Regions from separate parts of the Homo sapiens genome. Here region 1 is linked to region 2. The links come from fine-mapping of genetic effects on gene expression. A gene starts in region 2. The other region holds a variant in brackets. All regions are shown on one strand. Distances are between the middles of the regions.

Region 1 (8,680 bases), 100 kb after region 2:
CTCCTGCCTCAGCCTCCCGAGTAGCTGGGATTACAGGCATGATCTACCGCGCCAGGCCTAGTCTCTCTCTCTCTCTCTTTTTTTTCTTTTTTGAGATGGAGTTTCACTTTTGTCACCTAGGCTGGAGTACAGTGGCGGGATCTCAGCTCACTGCAACCTCTGCCTCCTGGGTTCAAGCAATTCTCCTGCCACAGCCTCCCGAGTAGCTGGGATTACAGGCACGTGCCACCATGCCCGGCTAATTTTTGTATTTTTAGTAGAGATGTGGTTTCACCATGTTGGTTAGGCTGGTCTTGAACTCCTGACCTCAGGTGATTCGTCCACCTTGGCCTCCAAAGTGCTGGAATTACAGACATGAGCCACCATGCCCAGCCTCGTCTCTCTTTTGAAAAACAAAATTAATGGTATGTACCACAAAAGGTAGATGTCAGGAATAAATGAAATTGTGAATGTAAAACACCTTGCATGATGCTTGGCATGCAGTAAGTTCTTAATGGGTGGTAGGCTGCTGGCAGAACATGGTGTATATGGTGAGGAGAGGGGTACAAACTGGGAAGTAAGAGACTGGAATTCTCATTCCAGGACAGCTGCTTTCTGTATAACTTTGGGAAAATACCTTTATCCCTTTGAACTTTGCTTTTCTTATCTACAAAGCAATGGCATTGGATGGCACCTGGGATCTCCACACTGTTTCCTGTAAAAACAATTGGCTTTGCAAATTTCCTCAGGGAATCCCCTAGGAAGAGGCTGCGTCAAACCAAGCAGACTCTGGTCCCTGTCTCTGTTTCAAACAGAGAAGCTCCAATTCCATTTGTTCGACATGTTGGGCTTTCAGTAGAGTGCTGGTTTAAAGAAAAGGTATTGCTGCGGTTTAAAAAAAAAAAAATTGAATATCAGTGTACTCCAAGATTTAAGTCTTCCCCACTCTAATACTCTAAGATTCTGTGAAGGTCTGAGCAATGATGGGTTAGTCCACTAAGTCATGTTGGGAAAGGCTATAGCTTTCCTCCTCCACTTGACCAGTTTGAAAGAAGCCAAGGGAGTGACCTGCAAGTCCCAAGACTGCCCGGGCATAAAAGTACTTAGGTGGGGCAGAATCATGACTATGAATAAGAACTCAAAATGCAACCAGCAGGTACAGTCCCTGGCACTAGAACTCAGGAAAAGGGCAAGTGCACACTGTTCTGGTTGGAAAATGTGTAAGCCAAGTACGTGACTGAACAGGCTCTTTCTAACCAGTAAGCTAAGGAAAAGAAAGCAGCCGGATTTGCAGGCTTATAGATCTGTCACTGAGGAGAAAGTAACTGGCTCCTGGTCAAGTCATCAGCATTCCAATATGGCTTTCTACCATAGGATGTGTGGCCTTATAACACACAAATGTCCCAGGAAGAGAGTGTGGCCAAAGGCTACATATAGTGCTGGTGTTATGAATTTCATTTACTCAGCCCACATATAGTGCCAAATGTGCTAGGCACTGTTTTAGATGTTGGGGATAGAGACAAATCCCTATATTCTACATTTCAGTCTGGTAGACAGACATAAATCTTTTTTTTTTTTTTTTTTTTTGAGATGGAGTCTCGCTCTGTTGCCCAGGCTGGAGTGCAGTGGTGTGATCTCGGCTCACTGCAGCCTCTGCCTCCTGGGTTCAAGTGATTCTCCTGCCTCAGCCTCCTGAGTAGCTGAGATTATAGGCACGTGCCACCATGTCCAGCTAATTTTTGTATTTTTAGTAGAGACGGGGTTTCACCATGTTGATCAGGCTGGTCTTGAACCCCTGACCTCGTGATCTGCCCGCCTCAGCCTCCCAAAGTGCTGGGATTACAGGCGTGAGCCACTGTGCCCAGCCTTTTTTTTTTTTTTTTTTTTTGAGATAGTGTCTTGCTCTGTCATCCAGGCTGGAGTACTGTGGCATGATAGCTCAATGGAACCTCCGCCTCCTGGGTTCAAGTGATTCTCCTGCCTCGGCCTCCCAAGTAGCTGGGATTACAGGTGCCCACCACCACACATTTTTAGTAGAGACTGGGTCTTATCATGTTGGCCAGGCTGGTCTCGACCTCCTGACCTCAGGTGATCTGCCCGCCTCGGCCTCCCAAAGTGCTGGGATTACAGGCGTGAGCCACCGTGCCAGGATGGTAGTGGTTTATTTTTATTTTTTTTTTAGTTGTTTTTTTCTTTTTTCTTTTTTTGTAGATGTGGGGACCAGTGCAACAGGGTGTTGCAGTAGGGGAGAGAGATTGGACTCAAATTCCTGTTGTTTAAACTACAACAGTAGCAGTGTGAGTAGTAAGCCATCAAATTCTGGATATATGTTTAAGATAGTGCAAATCAGCCCAACTGAACCACCAGGACATTGCCTCGTTGTTCTGTTCTTTTTTTTTTTTTTTTCCTGATTTTAATATTCATTATAAAGCTCTAGTAAGCAGGACAATGTGTTAATGGTATAAAAAAGCAGACAAGTTGGCCTGGCGTGGTGGCTTACGCCTCTAATCCCAGCACTTTGGGAGGCCGAGGAGGGTGGATCACGAGGTCAGGAGATCGAGACCAACCTGGCCAACATAGTGAAACCCCATTTCTACTAAAAATACAAAAATTAGCCATGTGGTGGTGTGTACCTGTAATGCCAGCTACTAAGGAGGCTGAGGCAGGAGAATCACTTGAACCTGGGAGGCGGAGGTTACAGTGAGCCGAGATTGCACCACTGTACTCCAGCCTGGGCGACAGAGTAAGACTTCGTCTCAAAAAAAGCAAAACAAAACAAAACAAAACAAAACAAAACAAAAATACCCCCCAAAACCAAAAAACAGACAAGTCAATGAAATAGAAATGAATCCAGAAAGAGACCCACATATTTATATTGACAACTAGTTTTTATTTGTTTAGTTTTTTTGTTTGTTTTTTGAGAACCCTGGATAGAGTGCAGTGGTGTGTACATGGCTCACTGCAGCCTTAACTGTCTAGGCTCAAAGCAATCCTCCCACCTCAGCCTCCTGTGCAGGTGGGGCTACAGGCACATGCCACCATGTCCAGCTATTTTTTTTTTTTTTTTGTATTTTTGTAGAGATGGGTTTTCACCATGTTGACCAGGGGGTCTCTAACTCCTGGGCTCCAGTAATCCACCCACCTTAGCCCCCCAAAAGCTAGGATTACAGACATGAACCACTGCTCCTGGCCTGATAACTGTTTGTTTATTTTTGTTTTGTTTTGTTTTGAGATGAAGTCTTGCTTTGTTACCCAGGCTGTAGTCCAGTGGTGTAATCTCAGCTCACTGCAACCTCTGCCTCTGAGGTTGAAGCGATTCTCCTGCCTCAGCCTCCAGAGTAGCTGAGTTTACAGGCGTGAGCCACCACGCCTGGCTAATTTTTTGTATTTTTGGTAGAGACGGGGTTTCATCATGTTGGCCAGGTTGGTCTTGAACTCCTGACCTCAGGTGATCCGCCTGCCTCGGCCTCCCAAAATGCTGGGATTACAGGCATAAGCCACCACGCCCAGTCCTGACAACTGTTTTTGACAAAGGCACAAATGCAATTCAGTGGACAAATAGTCTTTTTAACAAATGGTGCTAGAACAATTAGAAATTCATACGCAACAGAAAGAATGTCAATCCATTCTTGCACCATATGAAAATAATGATCTAAATATGTATTATCCCAGCCTGGCCAACATGGTGAAACTCCATCTCTACAAAAAAAAAAAAAAAATAATAGCCAGGCGTGGTGGTGGGCACCTATCATCCTAGCTACTTGGGAGGCTGAGGCAGGACAATCACTTGAACCCGGGAGGCGAAAGTTGCAGTGAGCTGAGATTGTGCCACTGTACTCCAGCATGGGCAACAGAGCGAGACTTTGTCTCAAAAAAAAAAAAAACAATTATTACAGACTTAAATATATTATCTAAAGTGATTAATCTTCTAAAAGAAAATATGGTAGAAAATCTTTGTGATCTTGGGTTAAGCAGAAATTTATTAGATATTATACAATACTAAAAAGCATAATTCCTCAAAGAACAAACAGATTAAATAGACTTAATGAAAATTATAAACTCCTTTTTTTTTTTTTTGAGACAGAGTCTCGCTCTGTCACCCAGGCTGGAGTGCAATGGCACAATCTCTGCTCACTGCAGGTTCTGCCTCCCAGGCTCAAGTGATTCTTCTGCCACAGCCTCCCGAATAGCTGGGATTACAGACGTGCGCCATCACGCCCAGCTAATTTTTGTATTTTTAGTAGAGATGGGGTTTCACCATATTGGCCAGGCAGGTCTCAAACTCCTGGCCTCAGGTGATCTGCGTGCCTTGGCCTCCCAAAGTGCTGGGATTACAGATGTGAGCTGCCACACCGGTAAACTTCTCCTTTTTGAAAGACACTCTTAAAATAAAGAAAATCAGCCAGGCATGGTGGCTCACACCTGTAATCCCAGCACTTTGGGAGGCCGAGGCAGGCAGACCACTTGAGGTCAGGAGTTCAAGACCAGCCCGGCCAACATGGTGAAATGCCGTCTCTACTAAAGATACAAAAATTGGCCAGGAGTGTTGGCGGGTGGCTGCCATCCCAGCTACTCGGGAGGCTGAGGCAGGAGAATCACCTGAACCTGGGAGGCAGAGGTTGCAGTGAGCTGAGATTGGGCCACTGCACTCCAGCCTGGGTGGAAAAAAAAAAAAAAGAAAAGAAAATATAACCCATAGAATGGAAGAAAGGGTAATCTGATAAAAGATTTATATCTAGATATATTTATATCTAGAATACACATTTATACTCAGAATACATAATTTGGATTAAAACAATCCATTTTTGTAAGTGGGCAAAATGCTTTATTTTATTTTATTTTTTTGAGACAGAGTCTCACTTTGTCACACAGGCTGGAGTGTAGTGGCTCGATCTCGGCTCACTGCAACTTCTTCCTCCTGGGCTAAACTGATCCTCCCACCTCAGCCTCCCTAGTAGCTGGGACTACAGGTGCATACCACCACCAAGTCCAGCTAATTTTTGTATTTTGAGTAGAGATAGAGCTTTGCCATGTTAGCCAGGCCTGTCTCAAACTCCTGACCTTAAGTGATCCGCCCGCCTCGGCCTCCCAAAGTTCTGGGATTACAGGCATGAGTCGCTGTGCCTGGCTTTATTTTATTTTTAATTAACATGGAATAATGTACATATTTATAGGTACGACGTGACATTTTGATATCTGTATACAATGTGTAATGATTAAATCAGGTTCATTAGTGTATCTATTACTTCAAAACATTTATCATTTCTTTGTTTTG[G/A]AAACATTCAAAATCCACAGGGTGCCATACCTCATGCTGGTAATCCCAGCGACAGAACGAAGCTCTATGTCAAAAAAAGAGAAACATGCAAAATCTTCTCTTTTAGCTATTTGAAAATATACAATAAGTTATTGTTAACTATTGTCACCCTATAGTTCTATAGAGCACTAGAGCTTACTCTTCCTATCTATCTGTCCTTTTGTATTCCGTATCCAATCTCTATCTCCCATCCCCCACCCTTCCTAGCCCATAGTAACCACAATTCTACTCTATTTCTGTGAGCTCAACTTTTTAGCTCCCACATATGAGTGAGAACATTAGAATTCCATTGCTGTTACTGCATGCTTTTTCTCTATTCTATCTCTTTGCTCCTCCCAGGAGAGGAGATTTCCTCCTGAGCAAAGGAGGTGTGTGGGTTGGGAAGGGAAAGCAAAGTAAAGGGATAGAAAACAAAAAAGAAGATATAAATGCAGCAAAAAGTAAAAACAGAAGAGCCAAAGAATGAACACTAACAGGAGAAGAAAAGCAAGAATGAGAAAGATAGGAATGCTATTCATCTTTCTGGCTTTCTCATCTCTTTTCTTCTCTGTTGATAACATAAAAGTGTGAAGAGGCTGATTTCTTTTTCAGCAAAAGCCTTCATGGAAAACACTGGTGACTGTTTTGTTTTCAATGGCTATATGCACAATGCAAGGTTGAAGAAGGAGAAATAAATTTTCTGTAAAGAAAAACAAAAATCAGTCCTGGAGTGGGAGGTGCATGCTGAGAGATGTAAATTCAATTAATCATCACTTTTGATAAAATCCAAGTCTTCTTGCACAATAATGGGTGCTGGCCTAGAATGTTACTTCCTCTTCTGTCTTCGAGGAGAGAAAAATCTGATTTCCAAAGAAAGAGAAATTCATCATCTCTCCTGGGTCACCTTCAACAACCACAGAGCTGGTTTTCTGAAGTGATGTGTCATAAAGTCACAGTACCCTTGAAGGTAACCGGAAATCATTGTTTTCACAGGGAAAAAGGCAACCGGAAGTTACAACTTCCACTGGAGAATATAATCATATCCTCTTGCCAATGTGGCTGGAACATTCCCTGACCACTGTAGCTTTTTGATACTGTCAGTGAAGGAAATAGTGATTATAAATCTTGATGAAAGATTACAGGAGTCATTTCAGCCTTAGAGAATTGCAATATGTTCAAGTGTTTAACATAATCTTAAAATGTAATAGGAACTGTTGTCTAATTTAATCATCAGTCTTTAGCTGTCAACACAGATGCATTAAGTTGGTAAATGGCAAAGGGAAAAATAAAGAAGTGGTTGTGCACAGACGAAAGGATACTTTCATTTCCCTTAGAGCTTGGTTTAGTCAACAGTTCCAAACAGTCACACAGCAGTCTGTTTGTATGAAATTTTGCCAGTGGGAATTAAGCTGAAAAAGAGTATTTTCCCTTCAGAACTTACGAGTTTCCAACTGGGACATTTTGCATAATAGATTCACTTTTCTATTGTGAACATGTGATCTACTTATGAAATGCTTCAACAAATGAAAGCAACAACAGAAAAGGCAGGACACATCCAGTATTATCAAGCTTCAATTGCTCTAAAAATTTTTCTGCAAACTCTCCCTCTTTGTTCCTTACTCTCCTCATAGCCTTCCTCTTTTCTGTCCCACCAAACCCCAAACTAACAAGTAGCAGAGGCATTTTGACGTTGAGCCATAAAAAATAATCACTATGACACACATGGTTCCAGGCCTGCTTTCACCTTCCATCAAAGCTTTGTCTCAACAACAGCTCTTTTCCAGCCTGGAATCTTGCCTTAAATTTTCGTGTCTTTTCCTCCCCAGAAGGACAGGATGTTAATGAATCACGGTCTACTAGGAAAAGCTTTTACCTAGGCTGAGGAATGGGCTTTCAAAGAAAAACCAATAATCTCCATCAAGTCCTGGAAGCAAACTAACATTGGGTCTCCCCTCACCATTCTAACAAAGCTGTGCTCTGTCTTCATTGCTCTCTTTCTCTCTTTCTTTCTCTAATACACATGTACTCATGCACACATACCTTGTCTTTTGAGTGAAAGTCTCTCTCTTTGTGACACACAAACACACATCCACACCCAAACACCGAAACACATACCCATTGTCTATTGAGAGAAAGCCTTTGGGCTTTATTGATAATTTTGACTCTGGAAATTAAGTAACTGTATCATTTTGGCAGGGACACTCGTGGGAGTTGAAGGTCAATATGCAGCTGGCTGCATCTTACAAATTGTTTCAGTAATTTTTGTTATCTCTTCCTGGAGCAGAATCTAGCTGAATACATTAGATGTAAGAACAAAGCCCAGCAGCCACAGAATTTGAATAATCACTTCCGGGGTAAACCACTCATGTCTCAGAAACCAGTTGGTGATAGACAAGATATGGAAGCCATGGAAAACCCATAAATCATTGACCAATGATGCCCGAAGAAAGGGCTTGGGATAAAATGTCAGCATGGGAAGAATAGAGCCATTTATACCATCTTTAATTACACTACAACTTAAATTATATTCAATGACATTACTTCATCTAGAGAGAAATACTAGATTCCCACAGATTTTGCTGTTTTTGAAAATCCACACCTGGCTGGGCGTGGTGGCTCACACCTGTAATCCCAGCACTTTTGGAGGCCAAGGTGGGCAAATCACTTGAGGTCAGGAGTTTGAGACTAACCTGGCCAACATGGCGAAACCCCATCTCTACTAAAAATACAAAAAAAATTTAGCTGGGCATGGTGGTGCACGCCTGTAATCCCAGCTACTTGAGATGCTGAGGAAGAAGAATCACTTGAACCCTGGGAGGCAGAGGTTGCAGAGAGCTGAGATCACGCCATTGTACTCCAGCCTAGGTGACAAGAGTGAAATTCTGTCTCAAAAGAAAATAAGAAAATAAAAAAGAGCCAGGCACAGTGGCTCACGCCTGCAATCCCAGCACTTTGGGAGGCCGAGGCAGGCAGATCACGAGGTCAGGAGTTCAAGACCAGCCTGGACAACATGGTGAAACCCCATCTCTAATAAAAATACAAAAATTAGCCAGGCATGGTGGTGAATGCCTGTAATCTCAGCTACTTGGGAGGCTGAGGCAGGAGAATTGCTTGAACCTAGTAGGCGGAGGTTGCAGTGAGCTGAGATTGTGCAATTGCACTCCAGCCTGGGCAACAAGAGCAAGACTCCACCTCAAAAAAAAAAAAAAAAAAAAAAAGAAATAATGAAATACTTGAATCAGTAGAAACATTTATATTTCCCCCAACATCTTTGTGGCTCAAAAGAAGTAGCTATTCTAGGCTTTTCATTGGGCTATGCAAAATTGTATGTGTGTGTGTGTTTATATATATAAAAAATACAGTTTTATGTATGTATATATAATAACATATATAGTATATGATATTATG
Region 2 (8,616 bases):
ACAAGAGTCTAATGTAACAAAATTCTCTAAGCTCTTAGAAGAAAACCTGTGTACTTCCCAGTCTCAATTACCAGGCAAAACAATTCATCAATCTAACTCAAATGTCCTACAGCTTTGTTTCATCTTGTATTGAGGCAGGGCTTCACTCTGTCACCCAGGCTGCAGTGCAATGGCATAATCACAGCTCACTGCAGCCTCAACCTCCCAGGCTCAAGTGATCCTCCTGCCTCGGCCTCCCAAGTAGCTGGGACTACAGGCTAGCACCAACACATATGGGTAATTATGTTTTGTAGAGACAGGGTCCCATTATGTTGCCCAGGCTGGTCTCAAACCCCCTAGGCTCAAGTGATCCTCCCACTTCAGCCTCCCAAAGTACAGGGGTTACAGGCATAAGCCACAGCACCTAGCCTTGTCCTACAGTTTCAGATTTGCTCTCTCCCTTTATTACAACTCCATGGATTGCGGCCCAGAGATACTTAGAATAAGGCAAAAGGGTAACTGAAACCCTGATACTATTCCTAGGGTGCCACATCAATACCTAGTATCAATACGTAACTGTGATTCCCCAAACAGAATGCCTACTTACAGACCCACAAAAAAAAACTTCCATTTGCCAATCACTACCGAATTCATACTGGGTTGTCCGGGTCTGTCATTTATTCTAATGACTATTTTTTTTTAATTTCTTACAGACTGATGAAATGTTTTAACTGGCACTCACAAATGGAAAGCAGAAATGTAAATGCCATCACTGTGTTCACACCATACGCCAAAATAAACTCAGCGAAGGCAGTATGCTGTCTACCTTGTTTGACTATATCCCCATTACCTGGCACCTATAGGATATTTAATAAATATGTGCAAAATGAATAAAATCATAACAAAATCATGGAAAAATATCATGGTCCCAAAATGTCAGTGGTATCAGAATTGTGTTATATCATGCACTGCTTAAAAGAAAGTAGATTACCTGCTAAAACTTAGAAACCTTCTAAACCATGCTATTTATAAAAGGATTTAACCTATACTGGAAAATAAGACTGACAACAACAACAAAAAAAGACTCACAAATCAATTCCAAGTGAGGCTTACAATTATGAGGCTTTATAGCAAAAGCAAAAGACAAGTTACATTTTTTCAAGATTAATGACTTTCCTCTATCCCAACACCCTGATCAGTGAAAATTAGAGAATTTTAGGAGCAGAAGCAACCATAGAGGCTAAACTATGAAACAGATGGGCTCCAATTTCAGAGTAATATAAACTGCCACCAATCTATTCAACATTTTTTTGCATAATTACAAATCTAAGATGGGATTTTATGAATATTAATTTGTTCTACTTTTTTGGCTATGCTGAGCAGTCTGCTGCGAGTTAGAGTTATGACTGATGAATATCATGATCTCTCACTTTTACGACTTTTATTTACCAAAACTGGGTGAGCGAAGATTTAATTTTATCAACGCCAATAGTTCCTCTTTCCTGTTTTCAAATCAGTTCAACCTACAGCTTTACTATTCTCCCATTCTATTCGTAGACTATATGCTAGTTTACTGTATTTGATTTCTATTATTGATTTATATATGTTAACAGTAGCCAAGCCTTATCTTCTCAAAGACTTAGGAGGTTTACCCTTCTAAAGTGCTCCCCTACCACGTCATTAACAGCAGTGTTTAATAATTCCTTTGTCATCTGTCTCCCAACTCAAATATCACTTCTATTAGGATAGAGTTGGGTAGGGTGCCATGGCTTACACCTGTAATCCCAGCACTCTGTGAGGCCGAGGTGGGTGGATCACCTGAGGTCAGGAGTTCGAGACCAGCCTAACCAACAGTGAAATCCCATCTCTACTAAAAATACAAAATTAGCCGAGTATGGTGGCACATGCCTGTAATCCCAGCTACTCGGGAGGCTGAGGCCGAAGAATCACTTGAACCCAGGAGGCAGAGGTTGCAGTGAGGCGAGATCAGGCCATTGCGCTCCAGCCTGGGTGACAGAGCGAAACTCCGTCTCAAAAATAAATAAATAAATATTAGGATGGAGTTGGTTCTGCCTTGTTGGCCACTACAGTAAATAGTGTAAATAATAGTTTAAATAGCATAAACACTAGTCTAAATAAGTGTTATTACAATGAATGAATGAATAACTTGGAGGGCAATGGCCTTATCACATGCTTTCTCTACTAGCTAGGCAGGCAATATTTGAGAACACACCATAGTTTCTATCCAGCTCCGTGAAAACTCGAATGCACTTTACTGCTCAATTGAAAATTTGCAAATAAATTTAAGAACAGACAACATCATACTTGAAATACACAGAGAAAGTACTATAAAACAGTTTATTCAAAGGCTACACAAAGAATTACAGAAGGCCAGGCGCGGTGGCTCACGCCTGTAATCCTAGCACTTTGGGAGGCCGAGGCGGGTGGATTGCCTGAGGTCAGGAGTTCCAGACCAGCCTGGACAACATGGCAAAACCCCGTCTCTACTAAAAATACAAAAAATTAGCTGGGCATAGTGGTGCGTGCCTGTAATTCCTGCTACTCCGGAGGCTGAGGCGGGAGAATCGGTTGAACCTGGGAGGAGGAGGTTGCAGTGAGCCGAGATCGCACCACTGCATTCCAGCCTGGGCGACAGAGCGAGACTCTGTCTCAAAATAATAATAATAATAATTACAGATTATTTAGGATGAGTTTCCAGTATTCCATTACCATCACTGTGAATTATCTTCCAATAACCACTGCTAAATGACTTCACTGTCTGGTGACTGAGTTTTCTTCTATGTTAGAGAACTTATATGAACGTACTGAACTAATGAATGACTACTTTCCATAACCTTAACTATAATCCTAAAAGTTAAAAGGGAAAGCCGGCAGGCAGTTTTAAAGACAACTCTTGAATAAAAACATAGGAGAAGTAATTTTCCTCTTAGTTGTGAAAGACCGGACAATTTTCCCTGCAACCTTCCCGCCTTTGCTGGTTGCATAGTAAAAATTAGAAGTAGGAAAATTTAGAATACTTCCATCTCCTTTGAGTCACGAACTTGGAAAGGAGAAAGAGACAACTGCGGGGACGCATGTGCTCTAAAGAAAGCAGGAAGTCCGCTTCTTGAGCATGGGCCGTTCACCCATCATCACAAATGGGAACACCGGCCTTAAGTCCATCCCCATTCTCTTCTAACCCTGAAATCAAAGCCAGTCTCAGTAGGAAACGCGATCTTGCTAGCTGAGTTAGAGAAGGAGCACCAGACAGCTCAGGACACCCTCCTCCTTCTACTTGGCCTGCGGCAGGAGGATACTCCCCGGGTCCCAGCCAGTGGAGAAGGCGGACCCGGCAGGCAACAGCGAAAGAGCCTTGGCCGGGAAGGAGCGCGGCCAGTCCACGCGGCCGGAGAACTCACCGAACAAAGCGCACCGCGGAGCGGGAGGGGACACTCGGAAAGAGGGGGAAAGATTCAACCAGCTCTTCACCACTGCCTGGGGCTAGAGACAGGTGGAGCCGCCGTCCTCCTTAGAAGGAGAAGAAAGATAGGTTTTCGAGGGCTAATCTGAAACTCCTGCGCCAAGGCAACCGGAACCGGGACCCCGCCTGGGGAGCGCGCTAAGAAACAGGGGAGGCGAGCGCTGAGGGAAGGGATGGATGGTCGGGGTCACAGGCGGCCTCTGCGGGGATGTCGGGGTCCCGCCTGAGCCGCGCAGAGGATGCCCGCGGCGCGCCGCCGGCCGCCCCGACTCGGGCCTCCCGAGCGCAGCCGCTGGCCCCCTCCCACCCGCGCCCCAGGCCGCCACACAAAGGGGATGGCGAGGCGCGCCGGCCGCCGGGAGGTGGAGGGGCGACGGGCCTGGGACGAGGTGGCCGAGCCGCGACGCCCGCCGCGCCCCCCGCCTTTGTCTGCCTCGCCCCGCGCCCTCCCCCTGCGGAGGAGCCCCACCGCCGCGGCGCCCTCACCCTGCTCGTTACCCGGGTGAGTAGCGGTCTCATCTGCTCGCCGGCCCCATCAGCCTCCATGGCCGGCCGGCCAGCCCGTGACGGCCGCTACGGTACTGCCCCGCGCGGTCTGCCTGCTTCTGCCGCTGCCCCTGCCGCCGCCGCCGAGCCCCCGGCGCGCGAGGACAAACGTGGGTGCGTCCGTGCGCGAGGTGTGCGCGCGTGGGGAGAGCCGGGCGCCGGGCGCGGGAGACGCGGGGCGTGCGTGTGCGCGCTGCGACTGCTGGGCTGGCTTTAGTAGGAGAGCGAGGCCGCGGCGTGGAACCTGAAGCTAGAACTGAGCGAACCGGCGGACCGAGCGGGAAGGAGGAGAGCCGCGTAGGAGGAGGGGTTCGGGGGCGGAGCCGCAAACCGTGACGAGCCCGGCGCCGGGGCCAGGCAAGACACGCCCCCCCGCCCCGCCTCCTCGGGTCACGCCCCCTGCCAGTCTGGCACCGCCAGCCTCCTCAGCGCGCCCGCGGGCCGCGCCGCTAGGCCACCGGGAGATGGGGCGGGAGGGAGGCGGGACGGACATTTGTCCCAGCCAATCGGCGGCTGGCGGACTTCCGCTCGCCTCCCCCGTGCCACCTCCTCAGGACGCACCGCCCCTCTTTGTATAAGCTTAATTGACCGAAGCTGAGCGTCTAACTAGTTTTTCAAGTCGGAAGCTCCCCTGACGTTCTCAATGGGGTGGGGGGTCACCACCTCCCTTGGCTCCTAACTACATTCTTTAGAGGCTGCAGGGAAGGAGGACGCCACCTCTGTCAAGGACGCCCAGGATAACCCTCCGAAGCAACTAACGAGTCTTCACGACTCCTGGAAGTTTCTTTTCTGTCAATCCAGTAGGCACGAACCCCAACTCAGGGACCGTGAAAGATGGGGTACACTTGACCAGGTGTCCTCCTGTGCTTGCTCGCCCACTGAGCACCACGACAGCTGCCACTTTTTTTTTTTTTTTTTTTTTTTTTGAGACAGAGTCTTGCACCAGCCCAGGTTGGAGTGCAATGGCATGATCTCGGCTCACTGCAACCTCCGCTGCCTGGGTTCAAGCTATTCTCCTGCCTCAGCCTCCTGAGTAGCTGGGACTACAGACGCGCGCCACCACGCCCGGCAACTTTTTGTATTTTTAGTAGAGACGGGGTTTCACCATGTTGGTTAGGCTGGTCTCGAACTCCTGAGCTAAGGTGATCCACCAGCCTCAGCCTCCCAAAGTGCTGGGATTACAGGCATGAGCCACCACACCCGGCCAGCTGCCACATTATTGAGTCCACCCTGTAGGCCGTCTCTCAAATATCCCTTCTGTAACGGGATGATTGTAATACCTGCCATGCAGGCTCATTGAAGGATTAAGGGGATTTATATTCATAAAAGTGCCTGGCACATAGCATGCTGATAATTTTCATTATTGTTAACAGGTTTCTCTTGAGTGTTTCATAAAGATGAGAAATTTGGCCGGGCGCGGTGGCTTACGCCTGTAATTACAGCAGTTTGGGAGGCCGAGGCGGGCGGATCACCTGAGATCAGGAGTTCGAGACCAGCCTGACCAACATGACGAAACCCCGTGTCTACTAAAAATACAAAAATTAGCCAGGCATGGTGGCAGGCACCTGTAATCCCAGCTACTCAGGAGGCTGAGGCAGGAGAATCGCTTGAACCCAGGAGGCAGAGGTTGCAGTGAGCTGAGATCACGCCACTGCACTCCAGCCTGGGTGACAGAGCTAGACCCTGTCTCAAAAAAATAAAAAATAAAATAAAAAAAGATAAGGAGAGGTTTAGTTGGGAAGAACTGAAGCCATGCAATGGAAGGATATATAAATACATCAGCGGATCCAGAGCTCACATCCTATTCATCTCCAACTGGGTATTAGTAAAGCTTTTTGTCAGCAATAGGTAGCTAGGTATGCTGGATGACTCATTCCTTCTTTGGGCCCTAGTCCCCTTTTGTCCTAAATTTCCCAGAGAGTTACTTCCAGTCCAGCACACATTGTTCACTTACTTGTACAAGAGCAGATGTGCCTCTATTAATAGCTACTATGTAAAGAGGCCTACAATTAGAGACTGTGACATTTGGCAAACATATTTCATTTCTAATCCTCTCAATACTGCAAAATATCTGCCGTCATCTTTTTCTTCGGCAAGGCAACTGAGCTGCAGACGCAGAGACGCAGATCTTTGTGAAGACCCTCACGGGCAAGACCATCACTCTTGACGTCAAGCCAAGTGACACCATTGAGAATGTCAAAGCCAAAATTCAAGACAAGGAGGTATCCCACCTGACCAGCAGCATCTGATACTTGCTGGCAAACAGCTGGAGGATGGCCGAACTCTCTCAGACTGCAACATCTGGAAAGAGTCCACCCTGCACCTGGTGCTGCGCCTGTAAGGTGGCATTATTGAGCCTTCCCTCTGCCAGCTCTCCCAGAAATACAACTGTGACAAGATGATCTGCCGCAAGTGCTATGCTTGCCTGCACCCCCGTGCTGTCAACTGCTGCAAGAGGTGTGACCACACCAACAACCTGTAACCCAAGAAGGTCAAGGCTCTTCCTTCCTCGAACGGCAGCCTCCCTGGAGCCTCAATAAAGTGTGTCTCTTTCGTTGACTGGAGCAGCAAAAACAAACAAACAAAAAAACAATACTACAAAATATGTTATAGCTCCATTTTACAGATGAGGAAGCTGAAGCCCATAGAAATACTGGTTTTGAGTTCTGGTGAGTGGAACTGCTCTTACTATTGGCACCATTCTTTTTTATTTATTTATTTTTGAGATGGAGTCTCACTCTGTTGCCCAGGCTGGAGTACAGTGGCACAATCTCGGCTCACTGCAACCTCCATCCTCCAGGTTCAAGCAATTCTCCTGCCTCAGCCTCCAGAGTAGCTGGGATTACAGGCGCCCGCCACCACACCTAGCTAATTTTTTGTATTTTTAGTAGAGATGGGGTTTCACCATGTTGGCCAGGCTGGTCTAGAACTCCTGACCTCCAGTGATCCACCTGCCTCGGCCTCCCAAAGTGCTGAGATTACAGGTGTGAGCCACCGCATCTGGCTATAACATTCTATATATTTTATGATTTATTATGCTTATTGTCTACACACACACACACACACACACACGCACAAATGTGAGCTCCATGTAAGCTTCATGTGTACAGCAAATTTGGTTTTTGGTTTTTGGTTTTTTCTCAGATATCCCTATGCCTACGTGAGTGTTTGGCCCCTGTAAACTCTCAGCACATGTGTTAAATGAGTAAATGTACAGGTGGGGCATACATCTGCTCTTCTTAAGATCTAAGAGCATCTTAGGTGACAGCTGAGCATGTGGCCATAGTAACAAGAACAAAGTAGGAGTCAAGAATCATGGTGCCAGAGTTGAAAGTGTTAAATAGTCAGCTTCAAGAAGGTCTTAAAAATGTATGCTTGGCAGACCTTGCTAAACAATGAATTTCTGTTCATCTATCTTGCAAGAAGAAAAAATTATTGGTTTATTTAATCCACAAATATTTTTTTAGTGACGTCTTTGTTGCCATGCACTTTTTCCACTCCTCATTTCATCCCAACTGCTAGAAGAGGAATGTAGCAAAGATCTGAATTATTAAATTTATCACTCAGTTGCCCACTTAATTCAACCTCAGCCAAAGTTCATTCAAGAAGATAATGTGTTAAAATTGCTTTTGTGCAACCAGAGATGGCTATAAAGTGTTCCAAGGTGCTGAAAGGTAAATTGTATTCTTGAATATTTTAAATATTCATCTGGGGCCAGGTGCAGTGGCTCATGCTTGTAATCCCAACACTTTGGGAGGCCAAGGCAAGTGGATCACCTGAGGTCAGGAGTTTGAGACCAGCCTGGCCAACACGGTGAAACCCTATATCTACTAAAAATACAAAAATTAGCTGGGCATGGTGGCAGGCACCTATAGTCACAGCTACTCAGGAGGCTGAGACAGGAGAATTGTTTGAACCCCGGAGGCCAAGGTTGCAGTGAGCCAAGATCACGCCATTGCACCCCAGCCTGGGGCACAGGTCCAGACTCCGTTTCAAAAAAAAAAAATTAATTTGAAATATGGCACAGGGAAACATTTGCTAAACAAAGGTAAATGTAAACCTAAATTCATCAGTAGCAATGAAGTGGTAGTACCTAAAGTTAATGAGTTTTAGCTGTATCCTAAATTCAGAATACTTCCTGAGTATCTGGAGCAGTAGATAATCCTAAAAACCCCTTGGCAAGATCCCCATCCTGAGGAGTGAACGGTCTTCCCAAGAACAATTCTCTATAGGCCAAGGTATAGTTTATAAAGACAGAGAGCAGCTTCTTTGGTATTTTGAAAAGTGTGAAACCATTCTTTTTTTTTTTTTTTTGAGGCGGAGTTTCACTCTTGCTGTCCAGGCTGGAGTGCAATGGTGCAATCTCGGCTCACTGCAACCTCTGCCTCCCTGGTTCAAGCAATCCTCCTGCCTCAACCTCCCAAGTAGCTAGGATTACAGGCACGTACCACCATGCCTGGCTAATTTTGTATTTTTTAGTAGAGACGGGGTTTCTCCATGTTGGTCAGGCTGGTCTCAAACTCCTGACAACATCAGGTGATCTGCCCACCTCAGCCTCCCAAAGTGCTGGGATTACAGGTGTGAGCCACCGCACCTGGCCACGTGAAACC

The links. PIP is the estimated chance that this variant, and not a neighbour inherited with it, causes the effect.
Region 1: its variant is the best candidate, but not a certain one, in a credible set for the expression of SLC4A7 in whole blood (TOPMed, PIP 0.84).

The regions. Positions count from the first base shown.
Region 1 is chr3:27,584,445-27,593,124 of GRCh38, forward strand. No RefSeq gene overlaps it. Among named protein-coding and RNA genes, the nearest start is that of SLC4A7, 100 kb to the left of the region's middle. The variant G/A (reference allele first, on the strand shown) is at 5,255.
Region 2 is chr3:27,480,121-27,488,736 of GRCh38, forward strand. It overlaps SLC4A7 (solute carrier family 4 member 7), which reads right to left and starts at 4,264. Exons shown (of 26, transcript NM_001321103.2): 1 at 3,947-4,264. The coding sequence starts at 4,006. It also overlaps the pseudogene UBA52P4. RefSeq lists enhancers at 3,003-3,062, 3,223-3,432, 3,463-3,522, 3,538-4,314, 4,793-4,922 and silencers at 3,693-3,762, 3,793-4,152, 4,183-4,662.